Linked DNA regions of Homo sapiens. The protein of the gene in region 6 purifies or fractionates together with the protein of the main gene of each other region. This does not show direct contact. Each region holds a gene or a part of one and is shown on either strand. Other genes may lie near its edges. The genes, in order: TRAPPC6B, ANKRD13A, TRAPPC9, TRAPPC10, GCA and STMN4.

Region 1 (5,186 bases), on a different chromosome or scaffold from region 6:
TACTACATTATCTACGAATAATATAAAATATTATCTTATAAATAATATACATAAATGGGCACTAATAAGTAACTAGATCTGAGTCATGAAATTTTAAGCTGGAAGAGGCCTTAGAGATTGTTCATCCCAAGAGTTCTTAATCGGGGAATTTGTGACCCCTATGAAAATAAAAACCATGTATATGTGCGTATTTATGGGGAAAGGTGTTCCAGTTCTCAAAGATGTCCATAACTCAAAATAGTTAGAAATCACTGAATTGGTCCAACTTACTCTTTTCACAGCTGAAGAAACCAAGATCCCAAAAAGTTAAGTGAGAACCAGAAATATTAAACTAAGAAGTTAGTAAAAAAGAGAAAATATGCCAGGCATGGCCTATAATCCCAGCACTTTGGGAGGCTGTAATCCCAGCATTTTGGGTGGCTTTTGTAATCACGTCTGTAATCCCAGCACTTTGGGAGGCTGTAATCCCAGCATTTTGGGTGGCTTTTGTAATCACGTCTGTAATCCGAGCACTTTGGGAGGCTGAGGTGGGTGGATCACGAGGTCAGGAGTTTGAGACTAGCCTCGCCAACATGGTGAAACCCTGTCTCTACTAAAGATACAAAAAATTAGCCAGGCATGGTGGCGCACACCTGTAATCCCAGCTACTCAGGAGGCTGAGGCAGGAGAATCACTTGAACCCAGGAGGCAGAGGTTGCAGTGAGTCTCACACTCTGTCCGAAAAAAAAAAAAAAGAGAGAAAATATACACATTAACCATAAAAATGTAATTAGAGCCTGGATACCCCAAAAATATAGAAAATAGGCAATCAGGCCGGATGCAGTGGCTCACACCTGTAATCCCAACACACTGGGAGGCCGAGGTGAGGTGATCACTTGAGCCCAGGAGTTCAAGACGAGCCTGGGCAACATCGTGGGATCCCATCTCTAAAAAATTTTTTTAAAAATTAGCCAGGCATGGTGGCCCACACCTGCAGTCCTACCTCCTTGGGTGACTGAAGTGGGAGGATCACTTGAGCCCGGGGGGGTCAAGGTCAAGATAGGCCATGATTGTACCACTACACTCCAGCCTAGATGACAGAGCAAGACCTTGTCTTAAAAAAAAAAAAAAAGTGATCTACCATACATCTACATTTCACTGTCATTTAGTTATAGTGTTTCTTTTTTTTCTTTTTTTTTTTTTTTGAGATGGAGTTTTGCTCTTATACCCCAGGCTGGAGTGCAATGATAGCACGATCTCAGCTCACTGCAACTTCTGCCTCCCGGGTTCAAGTGATTCTCCTGCCTCAGCCTCCCGAATAGCTGGGATTGCAGGCGCTCGCCAGAACGTCCAGCTATTTTTCATATTTTTAGTAGAGAAAGGGTTTCCCCATGCTGGCCAAGCTGGTCTTGAACTCTTGACCTCAGGTAATCCACCTGCCTTGGCCTCCCAAAGTGCTGGGATTACAGGCGTGAGCCATAGCGCCCGGCCAGTGTTTCTTTAATTGGTCACTCTATGACTATTTAGCTACAGTTTAGTGTTATTGTAACATGTCTCTCATTTCATAGAAAACTCTTTAAACAAAAAAGAACACCTTAAAACATATTTTTAATTCAATAGTTTGTTATGATTAGCACTGTACTTTTCCCTGTAGTCCTACTATTAACAAAAACCCCAACTTCTATTCCATTAAATACCTTAGATGCATGTTCTAAATACTGTTTTCCTGCAGACATCTGAGTAAGCAGGCGAAATTTGTTGTCCTGAAGTACATAGATGCCCTGTTCCAAAAATAGAAAAAAAATCCAAAGTCAATGTACCTAGCAGTCCTTAAAATTATTTTATTCTTATGAAACAATTTAAGTGTTTTTTAAAGTTATTAAAAGTCTCCTTCCCATTGGCCAAGTTTTCTTTTTCTGTTCTTTGAGACGGGGTCTCCTCTGTCGCCCAGGGTAGAATGCAGTGGCACAATTACGCCTCACTGCAGCCTCCAACTCCCAGACTCAATCAATCCTCCCACCGCAGGCTCCCAAGTAGCTGGGACTACAGGCGTGCATCACCATGCCCTGCTAATTTTTATATTTCTTGTACAGATGGGGTTTCGCCATGTTGCCCAGGCTGGTCTCAAACTCCTGGGCTCAAGCAATCTGCCCACCTTGACCTCCCGAAGTGCTGGGATTACAGGCATAAGCCCACGTGCCCAGCCTGGTCAAATTTTGTTTAAATGAAGGAGTTTTGCAATGTTCAAGCTGAAGAGTTGCGAGTTCAGTATTTTCACAACACTAATGTATACCGAACGGTTTTATACACTGAAGATAAAAACACTGTCTGAGACATAGTCCCTATCCTTAAAAACTCATAGTCTAGTACGATGGAATCATTAATACATGTCCACATGAAATAAGCTGTTTGTTTGTATAGTTATTTATTTAGACATGAGCTCTCACTCTGTTGTCTAGGCTGGAGTGTGGTGGTGCAATCACAGCTCACTGCACCCTCAAACACCTGGGTGTTTAGCAATTCTCTTGCCTCAGCCTTCCGAGTAGCTGGGACCACAGACACATGCCACCACACCCGGCTAGTTTTATTAATTTTTTGTAGAAAGGGGGTCTCCCTATGTTGCCTAGGCTGGTCTGGAACTCCAGGGCTCAAGTAATCCTCCTGCCTCAGCCTCCCAAAGTGCTGAAATTACATGTATGATCACCACACCCGACCTAATTTTTATTTTTATTTATTTATTTTTTTGAGACAGAGTTTCACTCTTGTTGCCCAGGCTGGAGTGCAATGGCTCGATCTCAGCTCACCACAACCTCCGCCTCCTGGGTTCAAGTGATTCTCCTGCCTCAGCCTCCCAAGTAGCTGGGATTACAGGCATGCGCCACTACGCCCAGCTAATTTTGTATTTTTAGTAGAGACGGGGTTTCTCCATGTTGGCAGGGCTGGTCTTGAACTCCCAACCTCAGGTGATCCACCCGCCTTGGCCTCCTGAAGTGCTGGGATTATAGGCGTGAGCCACCGCACCCGGATTTATTTGTTTATTTGAGACAGAGTCTTGCTCTGTCGCCCAGGCTGGAGTGCAGTGGTGTGATCTAGGCTCACTGCAACCTCTGCCTCCCGGGTTCAAGCAATTCTCCTTCCTCAGCCTCCTGAGTGGCTGGGACTATAAGCGTGCGCCAATATGCCTGGCTAATTTTTGTATTTTTAGTAGAGACAGGGTTTCACCACGTTGGCCAGGCTGGTCTCGAACTCCTGACCTCAGGTGATCTGCCCACCTCGGCCTCCCAAAGTGCTGGGATTACAGGGGTGAGCCACCGCGCCCAGCTTTATTTTTTTAAGAGACAGAATTTTGCTGTTATCCAGGCAAAAGTGTAGTATTTCACTGTATCCTTGAACTCCTCCCATGTAGCTGAAACCTCAGGCACATACCAATATGCCTGGTGAAATTTTTTTCAAGTTTTTTGTAGAAATAGGTTCTAAGTATGTTGCTCAGGCTGGTCTCCAACTCCTGAGCTCAAGCAATCCTTCTGCCTCAGCCTCCCAAAATGCTGCAATTCTAAGCATGAGCCACCATGTCCAGCCAGCTGATATATATTAGTAAATCATGTCTAGAGAGTAAAAAAATCATAGTCATTTCTTCCTATTAGCATTTCCAGTAATTCCAAGCTAAAGTTGGTACAAAATGAATTCCAGGCCAGGCACAGTGGCTCACACCTGTAATCCCAGAACTCTGGGAGGCCAAGGCGGGAGGATCCATTGAGCCCAAGAGTTTGAGACCAGTCTGGAAAACATAGTGAGACACTGTCTCTAATTAAAAATAAATAAATAAATGAATTATCCTATTGAGAGTACCAGATACATTTAATTTTTTACTTAATCAAAATTCCAAATCTACTCTAAGTATTTCCTTGAAGTTCATAAAATAAAATCTAATGAAGCTGGGAGTGGTGGTGCATGCCTATAATCCCAGCTATGCAAGAGGCTGAGGCCAAAGAATTACTTGAGTCCAGGAGCTCAAGACTAGTCTGGGCAACAAAGCGAGACTCTGTCTCCCTTTTAAAATTTTAATAAATACATAGTTTTCTATGTAATCTATTAATTTTGTAGTAAGAAAATCTTTTAAGAGTAGAAAATATGACAGCAGTAATAATCCAGGAGTTATTTAAGAGTAAAATGCTCTATAAATTAGACTTTAGAAATGACTATAAAGAATCTCTTCCTGCCACCCAAGATGCCAAAAGGAAAGGCCAAGAGGAAGGAGGTGGCTCTGGCCCTTGGTGTCATGAAGAAACAGGAGGCCAAGAAAGTGGTGAATCCTGGTTGGGCGTGGTGGCTCACGTCTGTACTCCCAGCACATTGGGAGGCCGAGACAAGCGGATCACTTGAGGTCAGGAGTTCGAGACCAGCCTGGCCAGCATGGTGAAACCCCACCTCTACTAAAAATACAAAAATTAGCCGGAGTGGTGGCACATGCCTGTAGTCCCAGCTACCTGGGAGCCTGAGGCAGAATGGCTTGAACCCAGGAGGCGGAGGTTGTGGTGAGCCGAGATCGCACCATTGCACTCTAGCCTGGGCAACACAGCAAGACTCCATCTCAAAAAAAAAAAAAAAAAAAAGAAAGAAAGAAAGTGGTGAATCCCCTGTTTGAGAAAAGGCCTAAGAATTCTGGCATTGGACAGGACATCCACCCAATATGGACCTCACTCACTTTGTGAAATGGCCCCGCTATATCAGGTTGCAGTGGCACAAAGCCATCCTCTGTAAGCAGCTGAAAGTGCCTCCTACAATTAACCAGTTCACCCAGGCCCTGCACCGCCAAATAGCTACTTAGCTGCTTAAGCTGGCCCACAAGTACAGACCAAAGACAAAGCAAGAAAATAAGCAGAGGCTATTGGCCCGGGCTGAAAAGAAAGCTGCAGGCAAAGGGGATGTCCCCACTAAGAGACCACTTGTCCTCCGAGCAGGAGTTAACACCATCTCCACCTTGGAGGAGAACAAGAAGGCTCAGCTGGTGGTGACTGCACACTATGTGGATCCCATCGAGGTGGCTGTCTTCCTGCCTGCCTTGTGTCATAAAATGGGGGTCCCTTACCGCATTATCAAGGGGAAGGCAAGACTGGGATGTCTAATCCACAAGAAGACCCGCACCACTGTCGCCTTTACACAGATTAACTCAGAGGACAATGGAGCTTAGGTTCAGCTGGTGGAAG
Region 2 (5,186 bases), on a different chromosome or scaffold from region 6:
AGCCAATTAACAAATAAATGGACTGCAGGAACCCAGGACACACCAGAGGGTGCTGGAGGCAGACCAGACCCTACCCTAGTAGAGCCAGGAGGCACAGAAGGAAGGAGATGGAAGGAGTTGATGTTAGGGGAGGAGGACCTCAAGCCTTGGACTGTCCCAGGTAGGTGAGGCATGGAGGGAGAACCAGATATGACAATAAAAGGCAACTGTTCTACTGGGCACAGTGGTGCATGACTTTAGTCCCAGCTACTTGGGAGGCTGAGGTGGGAGGATCTCTTGAACCCAGGAGTTTGAGGGTGCAATATGATCATGCCGGGGAACAGCCACTGCACTCCGACTTGGGCAACATAGAGTCACACACACACACACAAAGCCTACTGCTTACACAGGTCTGTCCTGTCCTTCATTTTCTGTTTCACTAGAGACCCAGAGAGAGTTTAGGGAGATGGTACCCTTTGTGGAGGAAGTGGGATTCAAATCCACTTCACTACCTTCATCCGAGACTACTGACACACAGGTAATCCTTCAGGAAAAATATGATACTGCTTCAGTGCTAGAAAATGATGAAGCACATCTCAAAAAGTACAGAATTACAAGCTATGTGCGTGAATATGAGGAAAAGGAAAGTCTGCCTGAAGACATCTTGTGAATGGTGCTGACTGGGATTATGTAGATGGTCTCTTACATAACAAGCTTTTGTAAGAAGACCAGATGCACAAAGTATAACCTATGCAAATACCATGAATGTGTCAAACTTGATATTTAGAATAAATCTTTCAGATTAGCCAAACACTGAGGCTAACCCAGAGGGTAAGACCTCCCACGCCCTGCCATTAGAGTATTCTGATAAACACACCTGGCTCCTGCTGGACTCCAGCAGACTTTGCTGGATGGCAAACTGCATTATCTCGTAATCTTCATCTTGCAAATGCACATTTCTGCCATTGTCTTGAACATAGTAAGATTCGGGAATTTCAAACACAGATTGATCAACCTCAAAGTTTGTGATGTGGGAAGCTGAAACAAAAGGCAACCGTCCAGTGTCTGAGTTCATTACATTTCCACTCCAACTTTTTGCAAAAATGTTGTACATTAGAAAAAAAAGAAAGGCTCAAAATTATAACAATCAAGGCTTACTATTATATGAGAGATTCTGAGGAAGCATGACAGAAAAAAGTGACAGAATACAGCTTTTTTCTTTTTCCTTGATTTTAGTGGAAACAACGAACACAGTCATAAAAAAATACACAAGACTATAAAATGAAAAGCGCAGATTTCTCCCCCTAAACATATACGCACAGTCACACCAATGTGTTTCTTCCTTTTGCAGGAAGATATATGGTAAATATATAAAAGTATATATAAAATATCTGAACACTTAAAAATGATAATAATTAAACAAATGCCTGTGTGCCCTTCACCTAGCCTAAGACACAGAACACTATCAATAACTGCCGGGCGCGGTGGCTCACGCCTGTAGTCCCAGCACTTTGGGAGGCTGAGGCAGGCAGATCACAAGGTCAGGAGATCGAGACCATCTTGGCTAACATGGTGAAACCCCGTCTCTACTAAAAATACAAAAAAAAAAAAAAATTAGCCGGGCGTGGTGGCGGGCACCTGTAGTCCCAGCTACTCGGGAGGCTGAGGCAGGAGAATGGCATGAACCCGGGAGGCGGAGCTTGCAGTGAGCCAAGATCGCACCACTGCACTCCAGCCTGGGTGACAGAGTAAGACTGTCTCAAAAAAAAAAAAAAAAAAGAAAAAGAAAAAAACACTATCAATACCATACTGCGGGCACATCCCTTGTTAACAATATTCCCTTCTTCCTCTCCAGAGGTAAATACATAATTCAGAATAGTTGTTTACACTGCCTAGCTCTTCTCTGGAGCTTGCCACATGTATATCATCCTAATAGTTTGTATTAGCCTGTTTGTGAACTCGACATAAATGGAATCATGCGGAATTTATTCTTCAAATTGGATTTTCTTCATTCAACATTATGCTTTTGAAATTCAACAGTTTTGACGCACATAGCTATAAATTTTTATTTTCAATACTATATGTTATTCTGTTGTATTAATAGAGCACAATAGCGCATTCTACCATCTCGGGACATTTGGGTCGTTTCCAGGTTTCTGCTGTTATGAATGGATGCTGCTGCCCAGTACTGGGGTCTCCAGATGCTCATGTGCATAACTTTCTTTAGGGTACACATCTAGGAATTGCTAGGTCATCCACATCTTCAGTTTATACAGTAATGCCGAATGTTTTATTCAAGGAACTATACCAATCTCCTCTTCCAGCCAAGAGTGCACGAGTGTTCCTTAGCTGCACAACCTCATGAACACATCTCACCCAACTTTGTTGCTACATGGGAATGTAAAGGTGTATATTATTGTCGAGTTCAATTGTTTTTATTTGAAGTCTTAATTTATATACATTAAAATGCTATCTTTTAATTCCTCCTACTGGTAGACTACAGGGGAGAAACATAGGACCATCATGATAGTTGCAGAAAACACATCTCACAAAAATCAATACTTAAAAATGGTAATAACTCTCAGCAAACTAGAAATATAAGAGAATAATGTCCTCCAACTAATAAGGGACATTTATAAAAAACCTACACAGCTAACATCATACCTAATGGCACAACAATCCTTCCTCCCCTAGAACCAGGAACAAGACAAGGACAGCCATTCCTACCACTCTTACTCAACATTGTACTAGATGTCCTAGCCAGTCCAGTAAGTCAAGAAAAAGAAATGAAAAGCTTAAAGATTAGAAAGGAAAAAGTAAAATTTTCTTTATTAATAGACAACATGACCATATATGTAAGAAATTCTAAGAAATCTACAAAAAAGTGTAAGACAAGTAAATTCAGCCATGTTACAAGATAAACAAGGTCAATCCTGGCCATGCAATTGTGTAAGAAAAAAAAAAGATAAAAAATTTTTAAAAACGATTCAAGGTCAAAATACAAAACTCAATTATATTTCTATATACTAGTAACTGGAAATGAAATTAAGAAAATAAGTCCATTTACAATTGCATCTAAAATCATGAATTGTATTGATGGCAAAGGAGTGTAAGGAAATTTGGGGGCATATGGAAATGCTGTCTACCTTGACTATGGTGGTGGTTACACAGATGCATACATTTGTCAAAATGTGGCTGGGTATGGTGGCTCACACTAGCACTTTGGGAGGCCGAGCTGGGTGGATCACTTGAGGTCAGGAGTTCCAGACCAGCCTAGCCAACATGGTGAAACCCAGTCTCTAATAAAAATACAAAAATCAGCCAGGCATGGTGGCACGCACCTGTATTCCCAGCTACTTGGGAGACTAGGCAAGAAAATCGCTTGAGCCTGGGAGGCAGAGGCTGCAGTGAGCAGAGATTGTGCCACTGCATGCCAGCCTAGGTGACAGAGTGAGACTCTGAGAAAAAAAAAAAAAATGCACTGAACCATCACACTTAAAATGAGAGCATTTTATTGTATGTACATTACACCTCAATAAAGCTGATTTTTAAGAACATCCTTTCTTTTTAATATAACTAGGATCATATATATTCTACAAGTTTTTTTTTGCTTAATCTAAACTAAATCTGAAATTTTCTTTCATCCAACACAGACATCTACTCCCTCAGATATTCCAGCTTCAGAGTGAATTATGAATATGATGACTGAATTATAATTTTTTTTTTTTGAGATGTAGTTTTGCTCTTGTTGCCCAGGCTGGAGTGCAATGGTACAATCTCGGCTCACAGCAACCTCCATCCCCCCGCCTCTCCCCCAGTTCAAGCGATTCTCCTGCCTCAGCCTCTCGAGTAGCTGGGATTACAGGCATGCGCCACCACACCCGGCTAATTTTTGTATTATTAGTAGAGACAGGGTTTCTCCATGTTGGTCAGGCTGGTCTCAAACTCCCGACCTCAGGTGATCCACCCACCTCGGCCTCCCAAAGTGCTGGGATTACAGGCATAAGCCACCACGTCCGGCCATAAATTTTTTTTTAAATAACAAAACTAAACTTTGTATTTATTTATTTTTTTACCTGAATCAGCCTGGGTCCCTTCCACATTTTGAGATACAGATTCTTCGGCAGTGCTACAGCCATTAACATTTCCAAATGTAATCCGTGCATTTAAGACATGAAACAAGGGAATTTCTAACAAACAAAATAAAAACTTTTATAAGTAAACTTTACTGAGAATAACAATAATAGTTATCATTTACTAAGTGCTTACTATGCCAAGTACTTTGATAAGTATAATTTTATTTAAGCCTCATAACAACCCTTCCCAATACACAGACGGGAAAACTGAGATTGAGAGTTGTGTATTTTCGGTCAGGCGCGGTGGCTTACACCTGTAATCCCAGCACTTTGGGAGGCCAAGGCGAGCTGATCACCTGAGGTCAGGAGTTCGAGACCAGCCTAACCAACATGATAAAACCCCATCTCTACTAAAAATACAAAAATTAGCTGGGCGTGGTGATGCATGCCTATAATCCCAGCTACTTAGGAGGCTGAGGCAGGAAAATCGCTTGAACCCAGGAGGCAGAGGTTGCAGTGAGCCAAGATCATGCCACTTCATTCCAGCCTGGGCAACAGAGCGAGACTCCATCTCAAAAAAAAAAAAGAGAAAATGAGTTATGTATTTTCTCCTAGATCACAGTGAGTAAGTGATCAAGCCAGGGTTCAAGTATCATGAACATACAACTATCCAAAATTAATACTCTTCATGAGTAGTATGTATGATATATACATATATAGCATTATGCATACTAGCTTGGGACGTAGATCATATTTACATATCAAAGGATCTTGGTGTCAACTGTCTTCCTCAAATAATTATCTAATTTGAAGTCTCACTGAATTAAGGTTTGACATTAAAACAATGACTGTGTCATGTTTTTATGCCTTTTTATATCTGTCAGCACCATTTGCAAATAGAAATGATGGTTGGAGATCTCTTGACTTTGATACACAAAATGAACCACTAATCATAACACTTCTTTAAATCAAACCACAGGAGAACTCTGACCTCCTCTGTTATGTCTATAAGCTACTTTGACCTAAAGCACTCCAATTCCCTGAAGCATCCTGCCACCCACATGCTGCCACCCACAAACATGGGCAGAACCTCCAAGTGTTGCTGAAGTTTATTTAGCAGTACCTATTTTG
Region 3 (4,946 bases), about 110 Mb from region 6:
TTGATTCTTTTATGATATTCTAGCTCTTTACCCATTTTTATCTTTTTCATTTCTTATAACATGTTAAGCACAGTCTATGTCTGATAAGTCCAGTATGATTCCTTTTCAACCCTGCATTTGCTGATTTTGTCTCTCCTAGCTCTCACTCATGATGCATTGCTTCCTTGTGTATTTCATGATTTTCTTTGTTTTTAAACTCTGAAATAATCATTTTCCTCATAGAAACTCTTGCAGGTTTTTGGATAAAAATGAATTCCTCCAGAAAGGATGTGTTTATTTCTTTGTCTGGTACCTGTATTATGGAGTGCTGTCTGTCTTTGAAATTAATTAACAACTTAAGGTTTGGAAGAGGCAGTTAGGGAGTGTAATTTGGGACTGCAAATTCATGGGAGGGTCAATATGGAATCAAAGGGTCAAGATGGAATCAAAGGGTCAAGACAGGGAAGTGTTATATCTACTCTCCTAGTAGGGTGGGAAGAGGATTATTTTTAGTTCATCCTTTACTAAAGGTGTAATCTTTAGGCTCTCAAATTGATGCGGAGCAGTCATCTATTCGATTCCCCAGCCAGTGGGCCCTGAGCTTTGTCATCTTTCCTCCAGTTTTGGAAGGCTGAAGACATTGATACTCCAGCTTTGGCAAAACCCCTCAAAGTGGAAGTTGGCATCAGTGCACAGCTCACCTCCCAGGACTTTGCCTACACACAGGTACTGGGGTGAATATTTCTGACTCTCCTGCCGGGTCATGGATGCACTTACAAATGTGTTTTCAGTAAGAGGCTTAGCCTAGACCCTTAGTCTAGATCTCTAGCCCTTCATGTTGAAAGCCTTTTTTGATCAAAATTTATTGTGTCTTAAGACATTGCTTGAGGCCCCAAGAGCCATGTGGTCACATACATCTCTCTCTCTTCCCTGCTTACTGGGATCAGAAATACCTCTTAACAAGTCATCATTGACAATTTCTTGGCTGGTAGGCTCAGAAGCCCCAAATGATGCTTACATGTTTTGAAACCATCTACAGGTCCGGACTTTGCTTGAATACTTCTATTGACAAAGAGCTCACTCCATCAGCATTTCCTGTCCCATTTCAGCACCTGTGTTAGAAAGTTCTTCCTTACATGCTTCATGTTACCTAATACATTAAGCCATGCAGGGGACTAACGGAGCATAGCAATGTGGCCTGTTAAGGGTTCCAGGAGAAGAATGGAATTTCAGGCACATGGCACAGGATATTTCAGGCACAGGACATGTGGATGGAATTAAAAAGAACAGCAATGGGAAGGCTAGGAGAAGGGACCCAGTATTTATTAAGAAGTTGCTATCATGTGCTAAAAAAAAATCTAGGAGGTTAAATCAAATAAACTGATATGAAAGTGTCCATGAAATAAGTATTTTTATCTCTATTTATTCAGATGAAAAAAAATCAAGGCTTAATTTAAGTAACTTGTCCAAGGTCAAGGAGTTGACAAGTGGCTGAGCTGGAGTTCAGCATCTCAGACATCTTCCTTTGAATCCTTGCCTTCCTTGTGAATTTCAGATGACGGAGCATGACGGCTGCATGATTATGGGGTCACCGGGCCTGTCCTGGCCCTGAGGGACCAAGGATCAGAAGGGCAGAACCAACTCGCTCAGCTAGTGAAGTGCAATGGACATGATCTGTTCCTGGCTTACCCTCCGCTGGCCTTCAGGAGGTTTCTGAATGCACCAGGGGCCTAGAGAAGCAGCAACTGCTGGACTGTATTGCCAGGTAGCCAGTAGCGTGGGGCCCTGGAAGAGGCTGGAGGATACTGCGCTGTCACTGAGACACCTGCCCCAGGTCCTCCATCTCAGCCACTGCCCACAAACACAGCTCCACAGCCAGAAAGACCCAGCCACAGAAATGCCAGCAAACAACACCCCTGGCTCCCCACATCCCACGGTAAAGCTCCAAACGCTTGGAGCACACACAAGGCCTGACTCCAGGTCACCTTCTCTACTGGGACAGAAAGGGTGCCCTGGGGGTGGGGAAGGGCCTGGGGCTGGCAGAGCCAGGCTGTATTTGGGTCATTTTCCAGGAGGCCTGGGTTATTTCTAACACCCCCTCCTCCAAGAAGACAACTTTGCCTCCTGCCCCTTGAGGTTCTTCCTTCTTGTGGCATCCAGCATTTTCTCTGGTAACTGTTGTGGGTATTTTTTGCAGTTTGGGAAACTAAAAAATATAGAAAACTGCAAGAAATAATTACAGTCACCAATATGCTTGCCACTCAGAATCAAACACTGCCAGAGTTTTCCATATTGGCTTTTCTAGGCTTCTATATGCATCTATATCTAATCTGGATCTGTGGCTGGATCTATATCTGTAGCTATGTGTGTACCTGTATCTTGATCTATTGTGCTTTTGAAAGGAAAGTACGTACTCAAGTCCCCGGTGACCAGCACCCTCATGCTGACATCAGATGTCAAATGCAACTCCAGTTCAGGTCACTCTTCTACAGGGGATGTGTATCCTTTCTACCTTTTAAACATGTTGTTATAGACACGTTCTGAGGCATAGAAAATTTATAATTTGGGGGGACATTGTCTACACAAGTGAGGTTGGGCTGAGCCCATCATCCTGCAATGTGTTGTTTCATTCAATGGCGTATTTTTGGGCTCTGTTGAGGTTGACACACATGGATGCTGTTTGTTCCATTCAGAAACAGCCCAGGTGGCCAGGCCCTCAACTACGCTGAGGCATCCTGAACGGAAGGGCTGAAGAGACCGCCCTGGGGTCTCCACCCCCTACTGCAGCCAGACCTTCTGGGGCTGCCTTCCCTGGGGAGCCTCGAGCAGATGCTGAATGAGCTCCAGGAACTGAGGGCCACTGGACACCCGCCCCCACATGCCCCCAGCCCACACCACATCACAGTGTGCTCCCATCATTCACTGAGCGACAACAGGAGGCCACAGATGGAACAAAAAATTTGTTCCTTAGGCCGGAGGCCACAGGGTGACCTTGCTCCCAGCGAGGGAGGTTTGGGCCTGGGACTTCAGGTCCTCAGGAAGTTCCCTCAGCCCCGCAGGCCTCCTGATGCCAACATGACTCTGCCCCATGGGAGGCCAGGGCAGCCACTTCCTGGCTCTGCCTGTTTGGCCAACTGGCCTTTAGGAAGCCCCGCTCTCTGTCCCCCAATACTCCATGGGAGTTTCAGTGCCCAACGGGCACCTGACGAGCCTGGTATCTGCTGGGGACCAAGGGCTGTTTATCCTCCCTGGGACCTGGGGAGCTAAGGGTCAACACAGCCAGAAGCCTGCCCCCAGAACAGGACTCTTGTGGGTAGTGTAGACACACCCCAGCTCTGGCCCTCAAGGGAGATGTGAGCCGTGTGCTTTCTCTCTCCGGTCCTCCCTGAGGAACGCAGGGCCAGCTGCCCACTGTGGCGGCAGCTCGGGCCCAGTCACACTCCTTCACTGGTGATCTCCCTCCCCTGCAGGCCTCCTTCCACCTCCCAGACAAGCTGCTGGTGACCAGATTCCTGTCTCAGCGTTTGCTTATGTGAGATCTCTAACTCAGAACCCGTCCCTTCCTGGGTCCGGCTTCTGCTGGGAAGCCAGCCACCTGAGGTGGGGGCTGACGGGCTGGGTGGGGGCCCCGGACTGCACTGGGCTAGCAGATGCAGGGAGGCAGGGAGGGGGAGGCAGGCCATTTATTGAAGAACTGCTTGCAGACATGGACACACACAGCCATGGTAACCAGACGCCACCCTGGGGCCAGGGAGCACCCAGAAACAGCCCTGGGCTGCCAGCCCAGGCCTGGACATTTGCCCACCACGGGTGGAGGGCCTCTCTTGGCATCAACCATCCACGACCTCCTACGGCACCATCTCTCCTGCCAAGTTGCCCATGGGGGTCTCCAGGAAGAAAACCAGCCTTGGGGGATTCCAAGGCCCAGGGAGGGTGGGAAGCTGCCCACGCCCTCAGGCTGTGCCCAGTCTCATGCTCACCATTTCTTTCTATGGCCAAAGGGAAGTCGCTGGACGAGGGAGGTCCCTCTGCTGGGATGAGCAGCACAGCACGGCTGGGGCCCCAGGTCACAGAAATGGGTGCAGGGATCCTGGGACCTGGGCTGGATGGGCACCCGCTTTGGGATTTCCTCTGCTTCAGCCTGTGTATGGTCCAGGGAACAGTGTAGGAAGGGGCGTGGCATGGGGTGGGGCTGCCATGTCCGGGGCTTCTGCGTAGCCCAGCAAAGATGCTACAGGAGGAACAGGAGGAGAGGGCTGGGAGGGGTCTGGGGGAGGAGGAGGAGATGGGGCTGCAGTGAAGGCCTTGCTCATTGCAGGGGGTGTGGGAGGCCAGGCAGGGTCACCTCTGGCCCTGCAGAAAGAGGGACGGAAGTAGGCGGGCTCAGGCCTGCGCCTCCAGGGCACACACGTGCACACTGGGCAGGCAGAACCAAGAGGGTGGCAGCTCCTTGCTGGTGCTGTCCTCGTGGAACCGGATGTGGAGGAAGAAGTCTCCCGTGTAGAGGAAGAGGAGGGCCCCGAGGCAGGCCGACTGGCCGGACGGCTGCACCTGAGCAGGGAGGAGAAAGACACATCAGTCTGGTCAGCAGCAGGGGCCACCCAAAGCCACCAGGAATCCTGGGAATCTGCCTGGACATAGGTGTTATGGGGGAAGCGAGGGCCGCCCAGGCCTGGCTCCAGTGCCCCCTCCAGCAGGTCACTGCGCCTCTCCGAGCCAGTTTTCATCTTGGAAAGGAGCTGCCAATATTCCCATTCCTGAATTGTTTGGGGGCTCAGGGGGTCAGGAGTGTGGGAGGGTCAGGAGTGTGGGAGGGAGTGAGGGAGAGGTTGGGGCAGAGGGGAATGGAATGTTAGCCTGTGCTGGGGCCTGACAGTGAGGTGCTGAGAGGCAGCTTGAGAGGTAGGAGGTGGGAGGTGGGGGCTGAGGGCGTAGGGCTGGAGCCTTTCCGTGGAAGGAGCGGCAGG
Region 4 (5,186 bases), on a different chromosome or scaffold from region 6:
GGATCACGACGAGGTCAGGAGATCGAGACCATCCTGGCTAACACGGTGAAACCCCATCTCTACTAAAAATACAAAAAATTAGCCCGGCGTGGTGGCGGGCACCTGTAGTCCCAGCTACTCGGGAGGCTGAGGCAGGGGAATGGCGTGAACCCGGGAGGTGGAACTTGCAGTGAGCCAAGATGGAGCCACTGCACTCCAGCATGGGCGACAGAGCAAGACTCTGTCTCAAAAAAAAAAAAAAAAAAAAAAAAAGACATAGGGAAATGAGAATATCACCATTTTGCAACCTTTAGGGAATTAGTGATGTGAAAATAAATGGCTGCCAATTTCCAAAAGGAGAGGTAATCGGACATCACGCACCTGCTGGAAGAACAGCAACACCCATGATAAAGTCCTGCCGACAAAAAATCCAGCCTGAAGCTGACCCAGCCTCCAGCTCCAACTACCAAAGTCTAGGCAGTGGGACCTTTTCAAGACAAATGAGCCAGGTTCATCAAGTTATAAAGAAAAAAAAAGAGACAGAGGGAACATGAAGATTTTAAGAGACTTAAAGGATTTATCTAAAAACTGTATTTGGATACTAATTCAAACAGTTTTAAAAATGGACATTTAAGACACACTGGAAACTTAAACACTGAATATTTGGTATTAAGAAACGTTTTAGGCCCAGGCATGGTGGCTCACACATGTAATCCCAGCACTTTGGGAGGCAAAGGTGGGCGGATCACCTGAGGTCGGGAGTTCGAGATAAGCCTGACCAACATGGAGAAACCCCATCTCTACTAACAAACCCCGTCTTTGTAAAAAAAAAAAAAAAAAAAAAAAAATTAGCTGGGCATGGTGGCACACGCCTGTAATCCCAGCTACTCGGGAGGCTGAGGCAGGAGAATCGCTTGAACCTGGGAGGCGGAGGTTGCAGTGAGCCAAGATCGCACCACTGCACTCCAGCATGGGCAACAAGAGTGAAATTCCATCTCAAAAAAAAAAAAAAAAAAAAAAAATTTAGCCAGGCATGGTGCCATGTGCCTGTAATCCCAGCTACTTGGGAAGCTGAGGCAGAAGAGTTGCTTGAACCCGAGAGGCGGAGGTTGCAGTGAGCTGAGATTGTGCCACTGCACTCCAGCTTGGGCAACAAGAGCGAAACTCCATCTCAAAAACAAAAACAAAAACAAAAGAAAGAAAGAAACGTTTTAGGTGTAATTAAAAAATACCATGAAAGAAAAAAAAAAAGAAAGAAATTTTTAAAAAGAAAAAAAAATGCCATAGACTGGGTGGCTTAGAAAACAGTTTTTTGTTTTCTCTCTGAAAAGACCCTAAGAAAGAAAAAAAAAATCGCAATGTATTTTCTCATAGCTCTGTAGGTCAAGAAGCCCGAGATCAAGGTGTCAGTAGATTAGGTTTCTGGTGAGGCCTGTGTTACAGACTGCAGACAGCCACTTCCTTGCTGTTATCCTCAGGTGGCCTTTCCTCGTTTCAAGGGGGAGGTGTCCTCTCACTCTTCCTCATCTAATCCAATAATAAAGGGCCCACCCTCCTGACCTCATCTAGCCCTGGTACTTCTCAAAGGCCCATCTCCTATTCTTAGCACACTGGGAGTCAGGGCTTCGGTGTGTAGGGAGGGACACAAATGTTCAGTCCATAACATCCATTCGTGGATAAATTATATGTCTGAGATTTGCTTCAAAATAATATAAGACTGGGGAGAATGAGGGGTATAGAGAAGCAAGATTGGGCAGTTCACCTAATTGCTGTAGTTGGGTGAAAGGTTTGTAGGGTCTCTTTATAATATTCTGTCTACTTTGATACATATTGCACTTTTATAATAAAATATGTGAAATGTTACAGTTCTTCCATTTCCCTTATCCTTCTCTTTTTCTTTTTTCCATAGCACTTGTCACCTAACATTATTTGTCTATTGTCTATCTCTTCTTGACAGAATGTAAACTCTCAAAGGGTTGGGATCTTTGCTCTCTGACATAACCCAAGCCCCTTCAGCAGTAACTGGCATGTAATAGGTCCTCCGTAAATGTTTGCTCACTGATGAAAACAGCCCAACTCCTCCATACTCCACACTAGACAACCCAGGATCCCCAAAGGACAGAACAGACTACAGGAGAAGCAAAGACAGTGCTGGGTATCAAGTTCTCAGAATAGGAATTTAATTTTGGAATAAGACTATACTAAAAATTTCTAGTGTATAGCTTACTTACTCAATTCTTAGAATGCTAAAGTGACATTTTTATTTAATTATATGGCAAAGGCTTTCTCAGAAGCATAATTTTAGGGACAAACTCCCTGCTTCCATGTGAACAGATGGTGTCTGCCTTCCCTAAGTACTTGGTAAAGCAGGAGTCATCAGACATGCTAATATTGGTCCGAGCTGTGCTACTAAACAGTTACACTGATCATGGCCAGTCACAGCAAAACCAGCCCTCAGCTCCTCAACTTCAAAATGACTTCTGACGGCCCTTCTCATTAACCTGGATGTTTAGAGCTTGCTGACTGGTCTAGGTGAACTGACAGTGCCCACAAATGGCAAGCTACAGATTGAGTTAAAGTTACTATCCAAACAGGTGGTTGTCAGTTCCAAGGCTCTGCTAAAAATTTCAACCCTGAAATTGTTTTTTTTTGTTTTTTGTTTTTTGAGACAGGGTCTCACTCTGTCGCCCAGACTGGAGTGAAGTGGCACAAACATGGCTCACCGCAGCCTCAAATTCCTGGGCTCAAGCGATCCTCTGGCCTGTCTCCCAAGTAGCTAGGACTAGAAGCACGCACCACCATGCCCAGCTAACTCTGAAATGTATACAATCGCTTCAAACTGCTAACAGATCTCAGTTAAAAATAAGAAAAATGGGCCAGGCGCGGTGGCTCATGCCTGTAATCCAGCACTTTGAGAGGCCGAGGCGGGCAGATCACAAGGTCAGGAGATCGAGACCATCCTGGCTAACACGGTGAACTCCATCCTTACTAAAAATACAAAAAAATTAGCCAGGTGTGGTGGTGGGCGCCTGTAGTCCCAGCTACTCGGGAGGCTGAGGCAGGAGAATAGCGTGAACCCAGGAGGCGGAGTCGGAGCTTGCAGTAAGCCGAGATCACGCCACTGCACTCCAGCCTGGGCAATAGAGCGAGACTCTGTCTCAAAAAAAAAAAAAGAAAAGAAAAGAAAAATGTCCAAACATACAATGGAATGGTCCCTGGTCACTGTTAAAAAAAAAAAATTGCAAACAGGGGCCTAAAATAATATTCAGAAATTAAACACCATGTAACAAATGTCCAAAAAGCCACATAAGGGAGAGAGCACAGAAGAGGCTGGACTTTTCCTAAGAAGGGATCACCCCACCTTGTAACCACATCTAGAACCCAGAAGCCCAAATGTCAAGATAACATTCCCTCGGTCAGGAGTACACGAAGGACAAACCTCCAAAGACAGACGCAGCTGTCTAAAACCAAAGACGCTTGATGAATGCCGGCCACTGCGCGCTTGGTAGCTAACACAGACAGTGGTGCGGCAGGTGGCATGGTGCCCCACAACATCCTAACCCTCAAAACCTGTGAATGTCACCTTATTTGGGAAAGGGGTCTTTGTAGACTTAATTAAGTTCAGGAGCTCAAGATGTGATTATCCCAGATTATCCAGGCAGGCCCTATATATAGCTGGATTCTAGATATATTTCAAAGATAATGTCAGTTGTGAGAGAAAAAAGAAGTCATAAATGACTCCAAGGTTATCAATTTTTAATTTAAAAACAAATATTCTCTAAGGCCAAAATACTGTGACTATATTTGACATTAAGAGCAGATAGAGGAAAGATTTGAGGAAGAAAGAAGGTGAGACACAGGACAGGAAGCCACAGGAAGCTCTGAGGCAACCCACCACAGAGGCAGGCACTGAGGTGGGAATGTTTTGACTGTTTAAGACCCTGCAGCTGTCTGGGCACAGTGGCTTATGCCTGTAATCCCAGCACTTTGGGAGGCCAAAGAGGGCGGATTGCTTGAATCCAGGAGTTCAAAACGTGCCTGGGCAACATGGCGAAACCCCATCTCTACTGAAAATACAAAAAATTAACTGGGCATGGTGGCACACAAGCAGCTACTCGGGAGATTGAGGTGGGAGAATCACCTGACCCCAGGAGGTCAAGGCTGCAGTGAGCCGAGATCATGCCACTGCACTCCAGTCTGGGCGACACAGTGAGACCATGTCTTAAAAAAAAAAGACCCTGTAATCTTCTGCCGTTGCTGGTCTCTAACTCCAGATCTAAAGCCACCAGGTCTAGAGTGGAGCACGGGGGTGGGAGGGTCAGTACTTGGAGATCAGTGTGCAATACCTTTGGAGACCACACACTTACACACTAAGGCATGCGACTCCAGGGAAGACACTCTGTCAACTGGCAACAAACTTTCCTACGACAAAAAAATCCTTAAGTCAGTTATTTGTATTTCCATTAAAAGATAACCAACTCAGCCAGAGTGAGCCACACAATCACACTGTCAGTTGGCAGGCCTCTGGTGGAAGCACACAGCAAAAACTCTCTAAGGAAAGACTGGTTCATGTGTTATGCCCGACATACTTTTTTTTTTTTTTTTTTGAGACGGAGTCTCACGCCAGGCTGGAGTGCAGTGGCATGATCTCGGCTCACTGCAACCTCCGCCTCCCAGATTCAAGCAATTCTCCTGCCTCAACCTCCCGAGTAGCTGGGACTACAGACGCGAGCCACCACGCCCAGCTAATTTTTGTATTTTTAGTAGAGACGGGGTTTCACCATGTTGGCCAGGGTGGTCTCAATCTCTTGACCTCATGATCCACCCACCTTGGCCTCCCAAAGTGCTGGGATTATGGCCATGAGTCACTGCGCCCAGCCTTTATTTTTTTTTCTGAGACCAGGTCTTGCTCTGTCACCCAGGTTGCAGTGTGAGGTACAATCACAGATCACTGCAGCCTTGACGTCCCAGGTCCAAGTGATCCTCCCGCCTCGGCCTCCCAAGTAGCTGGGAGTACAAGCGCACACCACCACACCTGGCTAACTTTTTTATTTTCATTTTTGTAGAGATAGGAATTCCCTATGTTGCCCAAGCTGTATCATACTTGATTATTTCAGAGATTCATCAGCACTTAAGAAAAAAAGAAAAAAAAAAAGAAAATCAGACCTTTCCATTTCATTTGCATAAAGAACTTACTAGAAACTCTT
Region 5 (5,186 bases), on a different chromosome or scaffold from region 6:
TTGTCAAGCTTTAGAAAGTGAGAGTTTCTAAATATGTTTGGCCATGGAAGCTCCTTCATAGACCTTCTATGACCAAAAGTCATAAGAACATTTTTAAATGAAAATTGTGTTAAAGAGTTCTAATATAGAGTGTCACCTGGCAGAAGCTTACATGAATAATACCATTTGTCATTTTAAAAGTTTTACCTCAACTGTGAGCCTCCAAGTAAGAGAGATAATCATAATCGACCGCAGAATAGTTCAGTAACGACCATCTGTATAACCTGGATGTTAAGATTACAGGTTGCTGAGCGACATTATCACCATTCGATGTGAACGACACTTAGTGTTTTCACATTTGCTTTTTCCTACAACACTTCTAATTAGAATTCTGTTTCTTTAATTTCCCAGCTCAGTTAATGTCCTCTCACATTATCAAATATATGTTCATAAAAAAGCCAGAGAACAAAATTATGTGTATTACCTATTCACACATTTTTATAAAACTGACCAAGTGAATTTGACAGCAAATTATATAAAATTATCAGTGTCAAGTGACTATGCGTTACTTCCTTTCCAGGATTTTTTTAAGTGAAGGCTGATTTAAAATTCTGTAAGTTTATAAAAGATTTTGTTCAAGATATTGCCATCTATCCTCCATCCATTAAGAAACATGGGATTTTATAAAATCTATAAATTAATTTGGTCAGCAGTCATAAAATTATGTCACTCACTGTTAGGTTAGAAAATACACATTTAAAGCATAAGAAAAATAAGTGGTTTATTAAATCTTCACTAAGACAGACATGAGGTGTTTGCCAAGAAAGAAATTACATTAATTATAACATCTTATACCAGGGATATTAAACACTAAAGATCTGGTGATTCTACGTCGCATTTTCGGCAGTTTTAGTACCACGCAGAAAAGTTGCTGTGGTGCCTACTATGCTCAAAACACCACATCACATAGATGCACTCAAAATACTTACTGGGTTTTTAATGGCAAAGCCACCACTAATGTTAATGTTGTCAAATAAGTCAAATGTAAAATTTCTGAACAATTAGAGTGGTTAATTACTTGTTTATTTTTAAGTTTATAAAGAGTTGACATTACATTTAAACAACAATTTAATTAGGACAATTTTGAATGTTGACATATCATCAAAAACATATGCCATTTCTAAAAAGTCTAGATTCAGAGCAGGATGCCATTTTAGGTGAACTATGTCTTCACTAATGAAATAGGACGCAGAGAGAAATACTATGTTTATTAAGAACTTTTTGCTTAGAGAAGACAATAAAACATATTTAAGAAAAATATATAATACAAAAAATAAAAAAGGAAAAAACAATGCCTTCTGTAGTCTTATTTCACTACAGATTGAACTAGGGAGATAATTTTCTTCTTCACAGACAAAGATCTTTAAGTTTCTTTTCTCTGATTATTTGATCAAGGAACAAACTATATTACAAACATGGCACAAAATCCAGGCTTTCATTTCTAGCCAACCCTCAAACACCACCAACTACAAAGAAAATTTAAAAGTCTAATTTGTAACCTTCAGATAAGTATAAATTAGTTTTTTCTAGGCTTTCATTATTTGGCTTCTTATACAATCTATCTTGTAAAGTACATTCCTCTAAATTTACATTATCTAAAATTAAGGCTAAGCATTATTTAAATCAATTAATCATACAATATTTTATGACAATATGCACATATTTATAAAATAACTTTTCCAAAAGCAGTAATACCTCAAATTAAAAAAGAAATCTTTTATTGCTTTGAACTATCTGCTAAAATAAAAACACACAGAAAGGGAAGAGGTTTAACAGGTAGGAAGAACATAGAAAACCCTTAAAAGTTTTAAAGTAGTCCAGTTCACTTCTTCCAAACAAAAGAATTCACAGTGTCTCTTCAGGTTTAAAATTCTAAGCATTCAAATTGCCATAGTGCCCTGCAAAAACTAATACATAAGTGAAATTATTATCTATTAAGAATAAAATGGTTTTTAATTATTTTTGACTAATTATATTCCATAAGAGCATTTTCTTAAGAGAGAAAAGTTTGTTTCCAAGGCTTATAATTCAAGCCAATAAATATCAGTAATGTTGACCCCATAACTTCCATCAGTAAATATAAGAAAAACAAAACAAAAACCCTGAAACATTAAAGCACAGGTAAATATAACTGTCTTATACCTTGAATTTTAAAAAACCCTGAATATCAGGTTAATAGTAACCATTTGAAATGAGAAATGAACAGCTTCATAATCCGTCACGGATTAAAATTTTTCCCTCCCTGAGAAAAAATATCACTACAGTAAACTACCCTTTTTAAAAATAATGGTGGTTTTGGCCCTTAAAAGTGATTTGAAAGATCATTTTTTTTTTAATTCAAAAAACCTGTCATAAAAATTGAAAAGCATATTTACAATTTAACATGAAGTCAAATTGTTTGGCACCTATACCAATATTAATCTTATATTTGTGTTACACTGAAAAATATGGAAAAGTATGTGGCATACCAAATATATTATTTCCAGTACTGGTACTTGGGATCACTTAAATTTTTTTACTAACTGAGAACTATCTAGAATGCAGTATAAATATCAAAAGCAGGATACTCACATCGTCATATATGAAATTCGCAGACCCTTGTTGCAAGTGGTCTCTTTTCCTAAAGAAATCTTTAAACAAAGAAATTACTTTTTTATTGTAATTTAAAATACATAGTTTCAAATATTTAGTGCACCCAGGTACACAAAAAGAATAATTTCATATTCAATTAAATATTAAGTGATTGAATAGCCCTGGCAACAGAGATATGAGAAAAACTTCCAAAAATAACATAACGTTTTTATCATTTATATTCCTTAATATTTGAAGCCTTTAAACTAATTAGATTTAACAGTGAATAAAGGGAGAAAACACATATTATTATAAACTTGCTGGAGGAAATGAGACACATTATTCAAGAAAAATAGCTACATAACACTGTGCACTTAGTTTTAAATAGTCAATACCTGTCAATGCTCGAAGCTTCACACAGCAAGCAACATAATCATCAAAGAAAATTCTGCCATTCTTGCTATAACGTTTAACAATAGTAGTTAATGTTTGAGGACTCAACCTATAACCTAAAAAAGAGATAAATTAAAACTTCTAAATGTAAATAACATAAGAACACTGCAAGATTGCTTTCTCATTAAGTCATAAAATAACTTTCAAAATTCATTCCACAAAAATATAATTAGAAACAAAACACATGAATATTGAAATTCATCAGACAAAGGCTTCACTGTTAATCCTGTTAATCGGTATATAAATATCACAATTCTAACTTTGTAATAAAGTCAAAGCTAAGGAAAAGAAAATAATTCTCTTCTTATGAATTTATCATATATTGTTATTTTGAAATAATGTCTAATTTCATGGGTTTTAATGCTTCAATATTTCAAGTATGTAACTTTGTATAGTTCTTAAAGAATATAAATGCAAAGATTACTAATGATCTTTGTTATTCAAATGATATTTCCCACTGAACATATTACTTGCAAGTATCTTTTATAACTAAGAGAAATTTGAGGATCAACATGATTACTCTACAGGGGAAAAAAACAGAAAAACATTCTTTTTTGTCCTGGAATTCTTAGTGTTTCTTCATACACTGTAATAATAATAACAGCTTTCTCGCTATTTCACTGATTTCCTTGGTTCTTTGTTCAGTAGTCCTGTGATGTCCAAAATCTTTGATTTTTACTTATATCAATGAGAAAGAAGTTTTTGATCATTCACTCCCAGTATGTTTAAATTAATTTTAAATTCTATACATGTATTATTGTTTGATTACTCCTATTTTAAAAAATACATAAAATCTAAAATTTAAAACGAATACAACTGAATAAAAACATAAATTAATATATTCTACTTGCTGTACCCTTATAGATGGTCCTATGCATTTAATGAGATGTATACATTTTACTAAGAAGAATGGTAGCCCAGTATTATTGCCCATACATTACTGGATTTGTAGACTTGAACAAATGACACTAATCAATTCAAAGGTGAAAACAACCAAAATAAATGTAACAGGAGAAAATTATACATGCAGCTATAATAGAATGTAATGTGGGAAAGGTATAAATTGAAAGAAGCAGTAAAACATGCAAACTAATGTAATTATATGCAAATATATTTTGAACTTCATATTAGAGAGTTATGAGCTAAATGTGGTACTGATAAAATTCCTAGATTTTCCCATAGTATTCTCAGAAAAATAATTTGAATATTTTAAAATATACATGAAGATCTTAAATTTGGATAATCCAGAATACCCTTTTTACATTCCACTGCCTAACGGGAACTCTGGAGGTTTTCTTTTCTGCCAAAGATTACATTAATTTCCCAACATTAGGCTGAATTAAGGTCCAGGTTTAATCCATTAGGTATTAAGGATCTATAATTGAACTACATATGTTTATATGGGCTGGACTGTCCCTACTACTAAATTAAAATGTCTATTTATAAAACAAAACCAAACAAATCACTAATTTGACTTATTTAAATTGCAATTTGAGATAAGCCCACTTCCATTGGGTTCAGATTTTAACTTCCAAAAAATTAATTTTCATACAAATAGATTTTGTTTAGAAGAGTGTAAATCACAAGCATAAGAACAATTCATAAAGCTACTTAAAACTGCATTAAGTTTAAGCAAATTAAACACCATTGTATGTTATCCATTTTAAAAGTACACTAGGAACATCAGCTTATCAGAGGTATAAGAATAAAGTTATATACTTCTAAATTACTCTAAAATGCAACCTTTCCATCCTGATGTATTTTGGCACCTGCTATGTGTTCTGCACTATCTAAGAAAAAAAAGACAAAAACATGGTTTCTACCACTGAAAACCTATTTTGTACAGACTTTTGACTGACTGAGGCAAGCTTTGGCTCCCAATTAGATATCCTGCCAAGTTATAAAAGAATACAATCTAACTGGTAAGTACTAACAAAGAAATAAATTTAAACACAACAGAAGAAATTCAGAATGTATGCATGTATGGAAGATCATCTTTTGAAAAAAATCATAATTAAAATGGTTTTGTTGAGGTCTTTGGTCAGAATTTACCTACAACCTTGAAAACAAACAAAGGAACTTGCTGGCAAAAAAATACATCCCTTTATTAGTTAGTAAATTGA
Region 6 (5,186 bases):
ACAGAGATGAAAGGAGTCTTTGCCACTGGGTGGCGCCAGCCATGGCAGGAAACCCAACTTTATCCCTAATAACCTGTGGCATCTGCGCCCAGTGGGGCCAGTCACATGTCCCTCCCCAGCACCTGGCCTGGTTGTGTGATGCTAGGTTGTCTTGTGGGGTTTGTTAAATGGCCATGGTCATGTTATCATGCCACAGCAATATACAGCCTGCAAGGGAGCGAGGGCCACCAAACCTCTCCTGGAACTGTCAAAGAAGGACAGTAAAGGTGTTATGCCCAAGGTCAGAGCACACAGAGTGCCAGGGATTCAGGTGGCATGATGAAGATGAAGAGACAATAGAGGCCATAGGAAGCATGAGGCAAGGAGTGCAAATCCTCAATGGGAGATTCTATCCAAGACGTCAGCCAGCAGAGCAATGGAAGGCAAAACCCAGTGCAGAAGCAAACCTCCATCCCCATCCCTCAGAGGTTCCTTATGTGTTTTCTGTTAGGTGAGAGCCAATCCTAGCCCTTCTATTGCCCCTAAGGAAGACCAGGAAATTCATTGCATCCAGCAGCAACAAAGATCAAAGGAGCCCCAGACAGAAGGTCAATGTGGCAGTCATTCAGCCAATATCCAGAACCAGAGCTAGAGCTCAGGATGGCAGGCCCTCCAGCTCCTGCCTGGTGGTCACTGTCAAGCACTTCTGATGGACACAAACTGGTTGGTCAAGAGCCAAGGCCTCCCTGGGCAGCTGAGCCCCTGTGCTGGCAGGGATTGATCCAGTGGAGCAGGTAGAGAGAGGACTCTATTTATTTATTTATTTATTTATTTAGTATATAATTCTGTGCCAAGCCCTCTGCTAGATCTTCAGATGGCAAAGATTCGAGTGTGGCCTCATCCCAGACTGTGATGAGGTTACTATGCAATTGAGGTTCTGCAGTGCCTATCACCTTGCAATGACTGTGAACCTGACTGTGTGCCAGGGATGTGGACTGGGTTTACTCAGGAACACAGGAGGCCCACTGGGCTGCATGCAGGGTGCAGTGGGACAGAATGCTAGAATAGGAACTGGAAAATTGCAGAGACCTCTGGACCAGTGAAGGACTTTGTGCTTTATCTCCCACCCAGTAGGAAGCCACTGACATCTTTTGAATGAGGGGAGAAGAGAACAGTGATGCTGATAATAATAGCAATAATAACAACTACCATTCTTGGGCAGGAAAAGCACGGCTGTTATCTCATTTTTCTATTAGGTTCTTTGAGAATGAGGACATTGAATCTCAGCAGTTAAGTAAGTTATACCGTCGTCACACAGGTAGGTAGGGGCAGAGCTGGGATTTGAGTCCTCATGTGTTTCATTGGAAAGCCTCTCTGTCTTTAGGTTCTGCTGCGAGTGTAAAAAGATTCATCTGGCAACATTCGTTTGGGGAAAAATTAGGAGGGATAGGCTGGAAGCCAAATAGCAGTCTGGGTACAAAGTGTGGGTTGGACCTGCTGGATTGAGTTCCACTCTGAAGTTTTCACATCTCACCCAGCACTATTTTTCCATTTACAAACTGATCCATACATTTCCCCCAGCACCAGCATCTAAGAGTCTGTACAGAAAAGCAAGGAACCAGAGCTTTTTGTTGATGGCTTGAACCATTAGCATAATTGTTAAGAAATAAATTAGTGGGTGATAACCCCCCCCAAGCACAGAGCCAGCCGTAAGGAAACACAGAATGAGTAAGTTTTGATTGGAGGCAGACGTGGCTGAGAGTGAAGTTGTAGGCTGTTGACTGAGGAGGGATCTCACGGTGGGACAGTGGGGAGAAAAAGGTGGTTAAAGTGAAGAGATCAGAGCCCTCGATTTCACCCAGAACATTTGAATGTCAGAGATGGAGAGAACAGGCAATCACAAGCCCATGGTTCTCGACTCAGTGCAGTCTCACTCCCGGGAACTACATGGGACTTTTCAATGGTCATGAAACTGAGGATGCTACAGGCATTTAGTGGGCAGAGGCTGGCGAGTCTAAATGTCTTGCATTGTATACATCAGTCCCACACGATAAACAACTGTCCCTTCCAAAATGCCAATAGCCTCCTACTTGGGGACCAAAGATTCTGAGGTCACGCAGAGAACTCCTGGCAGAGATTGGATGGATTCCAGTGTCAATGCCCTTCTCCTTTATACTTGCTCCTTCTCTGTCCCCAAACACCATCCTGGATGAGAGGGGACAGCCCACATGGTCACCAGAGCAGCTCTGAATGAGAAGATGGATACACAGAAGGGAGACCCCAGCAGGGCACTTTCATGCAACCCACACTTCCAGGCTTTCCGTAATTCAGCTGATGTCCAGGGGGCAAACAGAAAAGCACCAAGTTCTCAGATGACACGTGGCCACCTACTGGGTGTATGCCTGACCTCTTAGTGCCTCTGACTGCCCATACGACAGAATGAACAAGCATTTTATTGGTCACTGTAAGAAATGCCCCAAGAATGCTTGCAGGATGTGTCAAATTCCATCTGGACTATTTTTGAGGGATGAGCAGATAATGCATGTCCCAGTGGCTTGAACAGAGTTGTACCTGGCAAGGGTTTCGGAAGACAAATCTAGAAACTCTGGCCAAGAATCAGGATGAATACCTCATGGTTGTGGGGGCAATGAATTCTGCCTGAGGTCCTCTAACCACAAGCAGTACAGGAAGGTGGTTCTTTAAGTCTGTGCCCTATTGCCAATCTTCTTCAAAATCCAGTTGAGGTCATATATTTACCCAAAATTAGCTGCATAAGCTATCTAAATGCCACATTTATTTGCTTTGGGATGAATCATGTCAGCTCAGAACAGTGGCCCTGGTTATTTCATGCTGATCAAAAGGCTCTGATTGGCAGCCATGTGTCTTCTTTGGGTTTAAAATCAAAAGGAGATAAATTATTTTTTCATAAATGTGGTTTTCATTCTTTCTACAATATTTACTGAGTATTTAATTATGTGCCAAGCCCTCTGCTAGATCCTAAAATAACCACAGGAGTTTTTGTTGGTGGAAAAGTAAAACAGGTCCCTGGATGGGTATCTAGAGCCATTGGAGCCTTTGGAGGCTCTGCAGATGCTCTGCGGGCCTCAGCATGGTCTTCCGCGATAATGTGGACCATGCCATAAAGGGAGAAGGAGTGGGAATTAGAGTGCAGACCAAGAAGGAACCAGCGAGACCTACAGAGGGAAACTGGGCAAAACAGAACAGTGTGTGATTCACTGGGTCTGGGGAAACTGGCATTGTTTAATCACCTCTTAGGCTCTTGCTTCCAACAGCATCTAGAGGAAGAGATGATGGGGACCTGGACAAGGGCAACTCCCAGAGGGTACCCAACAGGCTTAGGCTTCTAGGAAATAAGCACCTATGACAAAAGCAGAACTCTGAAGGCCTGAATCTGAGGAGTCCTTCTTAGCACTAACAGCTATGTTAAGAGGCAAGTCAGAGAAGGAAAATTAAACTGGAAAAGTGACAGCCCCAAATAATCCACAATGATGGGATTTTCTGGGCAATTTTTATTTCCAATTTAATATATGCAGAAGCGGCTGAGTGCGATGGCTCATGCCTGTAATCCCAACACTTTGGGAGGCTGAGGCAGGCAAATCATGAGGTCAGGAGTTCGAGACCAGCCTGGCCAACATGGTGAAACCCCATCTCTACTAAAAATACAAAAATTAGCCCAGCGTGGTGGTGCATGCCTGTAGTCTCAGTCCCAGCTACTCGGGAGGCTGTGGCAGGAGAATCACTTGAACACAGGAAGTGGAGGTTGCAGTGAGCTGAGATCATGCCACTGCACTTCAGCCTGGGTGAAAGAGTGAGACTTCATCTCAAAAAATAAATATATATATATACACGTATATACGTATATATATATACATATAATATTATATATATACGTATATACGTGTATATATATTATATATATACATATGCAGAAGAATCAGCATCACAGAAGTCAAGTTCAGGGGCATGGACTTCCATTCTGGGCTGCTGGAGAGTGTGCAAGGCATGTGACCCAGGAGTTCTGTGAGGTCCTGGGTTAAAAGCACATGAAGCCATCAATATACAGGGCAAGCCCTTTTAATCTTACTCCCAATAACAACAATGTGATTGAATATTGCTTTATGATTACATCTATAGGCATATGTGCATCTTATAAATAATGCTTTAATTACAAACATATTCACATTATATTTTGGAAATTCTATGTAACAGAAAAAAAGAAAATAAATCCTTGTAGTCTTGCTACTTTATGCTATTGGCATTTTCTTCTAGGTTTTTTCCCCTCTGTCTACTATTTTTACATAAGCCAGAAACCAGGGCTTTTACAAAAGCAAGGGAATCTACATTTAAAAAAAATTTCTTTTTTGCCATCTTTTTTTTTCTTTTTTTTTTTATTATTATACTTTAAGTTTTAGGGTACGTGTGCACATTGTGCAGGTTAGTTACATATGTATACATGTGCCATGCTGGTGTGCTGCACCCACTAACTCGTCATCTAGCATTAGGTATATCTCCCAATGCTATCCCTCCCCCCTTCCCCCATTCCACAACAGTCCCCAGAGTGTGATATTCCCCTTCCTGTGTCCATGTGATCTCGTTGTTCAATTCCCACCTATGAGTGAGAATATGCAGTGTTTGGTTTTTTGTCCTTGTGATAGTTTACTGAGAATGATGATTTCCAATTTCATCCATGTCCCTACAAAGGACACGAACTCATCATTTTTTATGGCTGCATAGTATTCCATGGTGTATATGTGCCACATTTTCTTAATCCAGTCTATCATTGTTGGACATTTGGGTTGGTTCCAAGTCTTTGCTATCGTGAATAATGCCGCAATAAACATACGTGTCCATGTGTCTTTATAGCAGCATGATTTATAGTCCTTTGGGTATATACCCAGTAATGGGATGGCTGGGTCAAATGGTATTTCCAGTTATAGATCCCTGAGGAATCGCCACAAAGGGCTAATATCCAGAATCTACAATGAACTCAAACAAATTTACAAGAAAAAAACAAACAACCCCATCAAAAAAAATTTTTTAAGGTAGAGATGGGGTCTCACTGTGTTGCCCAGGTTAGCCTCAAGCTCCTGTGCTTAAGTGATCCTTTGGCCTCAGTCTCCCAAAGTGCTAGAATGACAGGCATGAGCCACCGTGCCTGGCCAGGGCATACATATTTTATCATTTTA

Evidence for each region.
Region 1: the proteins of STMN4 (region 6) and TRAPPC6B purify together in Homo sapiens (affinity purification with mass spectrometry; 2 studies listed by BioGRID and IntAct, with this or other methods). This does not show direct contact.
Region 2: the proteins of STMN4 (region 6) and ANKRD13A purify together in Homo sapiens (affinity purification with mass spectrometry; one large-scale study listed by BioGRID and IntAct). This does not show direct contact.
Region 3: the proteins of STMN4 (region 6) and TRAPPC9 purify together in Homo sapiens (affinity purification with mass spectrometry; 2 studies listed by BioGRID and IntAct, with this or other methods). This does not show direct contact.
Region 4: the proteins of STMN4 (region 6) and TRAPPC10 purify together in Homo sapiens (affinity purification with mass spectrometry; 2 studies listed by BioGRID and IntAct, with this or other methods). This does not show direct contact.
Region 5: the proteins of STMN4 (region 6) and GCA purify together in Homo sapiens (affinity purification with mass spectrometry; one large-scale study listed by BioGRID and IntAct). This does not show direct contact.

The regions. Positions count from the first base shown.
Region 1 is NC_000014.9:39,152,535-39,157,720, forward strand, and holds part of TRAPPC6B (trafficking protein particle complex subunit 6B), read right to left. Parts: exon of another isoform or gene 4,588-5,186; intron 1,761-4,587; coding exon 1,677-1,760; intron 1-1,676. UniProt on the Homo sapiens protein: Component of a transport protein particle (TRAPP) complex that may function in specific stages of inter-organelle traffic.
Region 2 is NC_000012.12:110,029,628-110,034,813, reverse strand, and holds part of ANKRD13A (ankyrin repeat domain-containing protein 13A), read right to left. Parts: coding exon 5,179-5,186; intron 4,170-5,178; coding exon 4,056-4,169; intron 2,368-4,055; exon of another isoform or gene 2,104-2,367; intron 1,018-2,103; coding exon 857-1,017; intron 1-856. UniProt on the Homo sapiens protein: Ubiquitin-binding protein that specifically recognizes and binds 'Lys-63'-linked ubiquitin. Does not bind 'Lys-48'-linked ubiquitin.
Region 3 is NC_000008.11:139,726,699-139,731,644, forward strand, and holds the end of TRAPPC9 (trafficking protein particle complex subunit 9), read right to left. Parts: intron 4,531-4,946; coding exon 4,363-4,530; 3' UTR 1,027-4,362; downstream 1-1,026. UniProt on the Homo sapiens protein: Functions as an activator of NF-kappa-B through increased phosphorylation of the IKK complex. May function in neuronal cells differentiation. May play a role in vesicular transport from endoplasmic reticulum to Golgi.
Region 4 is NC_000021.9:44,018,092-44,023,277, reverse strand, and holds part of TRAPPC10 (trafficking protein particle complex subunit 10), read right to left. Parts: intron 1-5,186. UniProt on the Homo sapiens protein: Specific subunit of the TRAPP (transport protein particle) II complex, a highly conserved vesicle tethering complex that functions in late Golgi trafficking as a membrane tether.
Region 5 is NC_000002.12:162,356,977-162,362,162, reverse strand, and holds part of GCA (grancalcin), read right to left. Parts: intron 3,120-5,186; coding exon 3,006-3,119; intron 2,670-3,005; coding exon 2,611-2,669; intron 1,947-2,610; coding exon 1,920-1,946; 3' UTR 1-1,919. UniProt on the Homo sapiens protein: Calcium-binding protein that may play a role in the adhesion of neutrophils to fibronectin. May play a role in the formation of focal adhesions.
Region 6 is NC_000008.11:27,247,430-27,252,615, forward strand, and holds part of STMN4 (stathmin-4), read right to left. Parts: intron 1-5,186. UniProt on the Homo sapiens protein: Exhibits microtubule-destabilizing activity.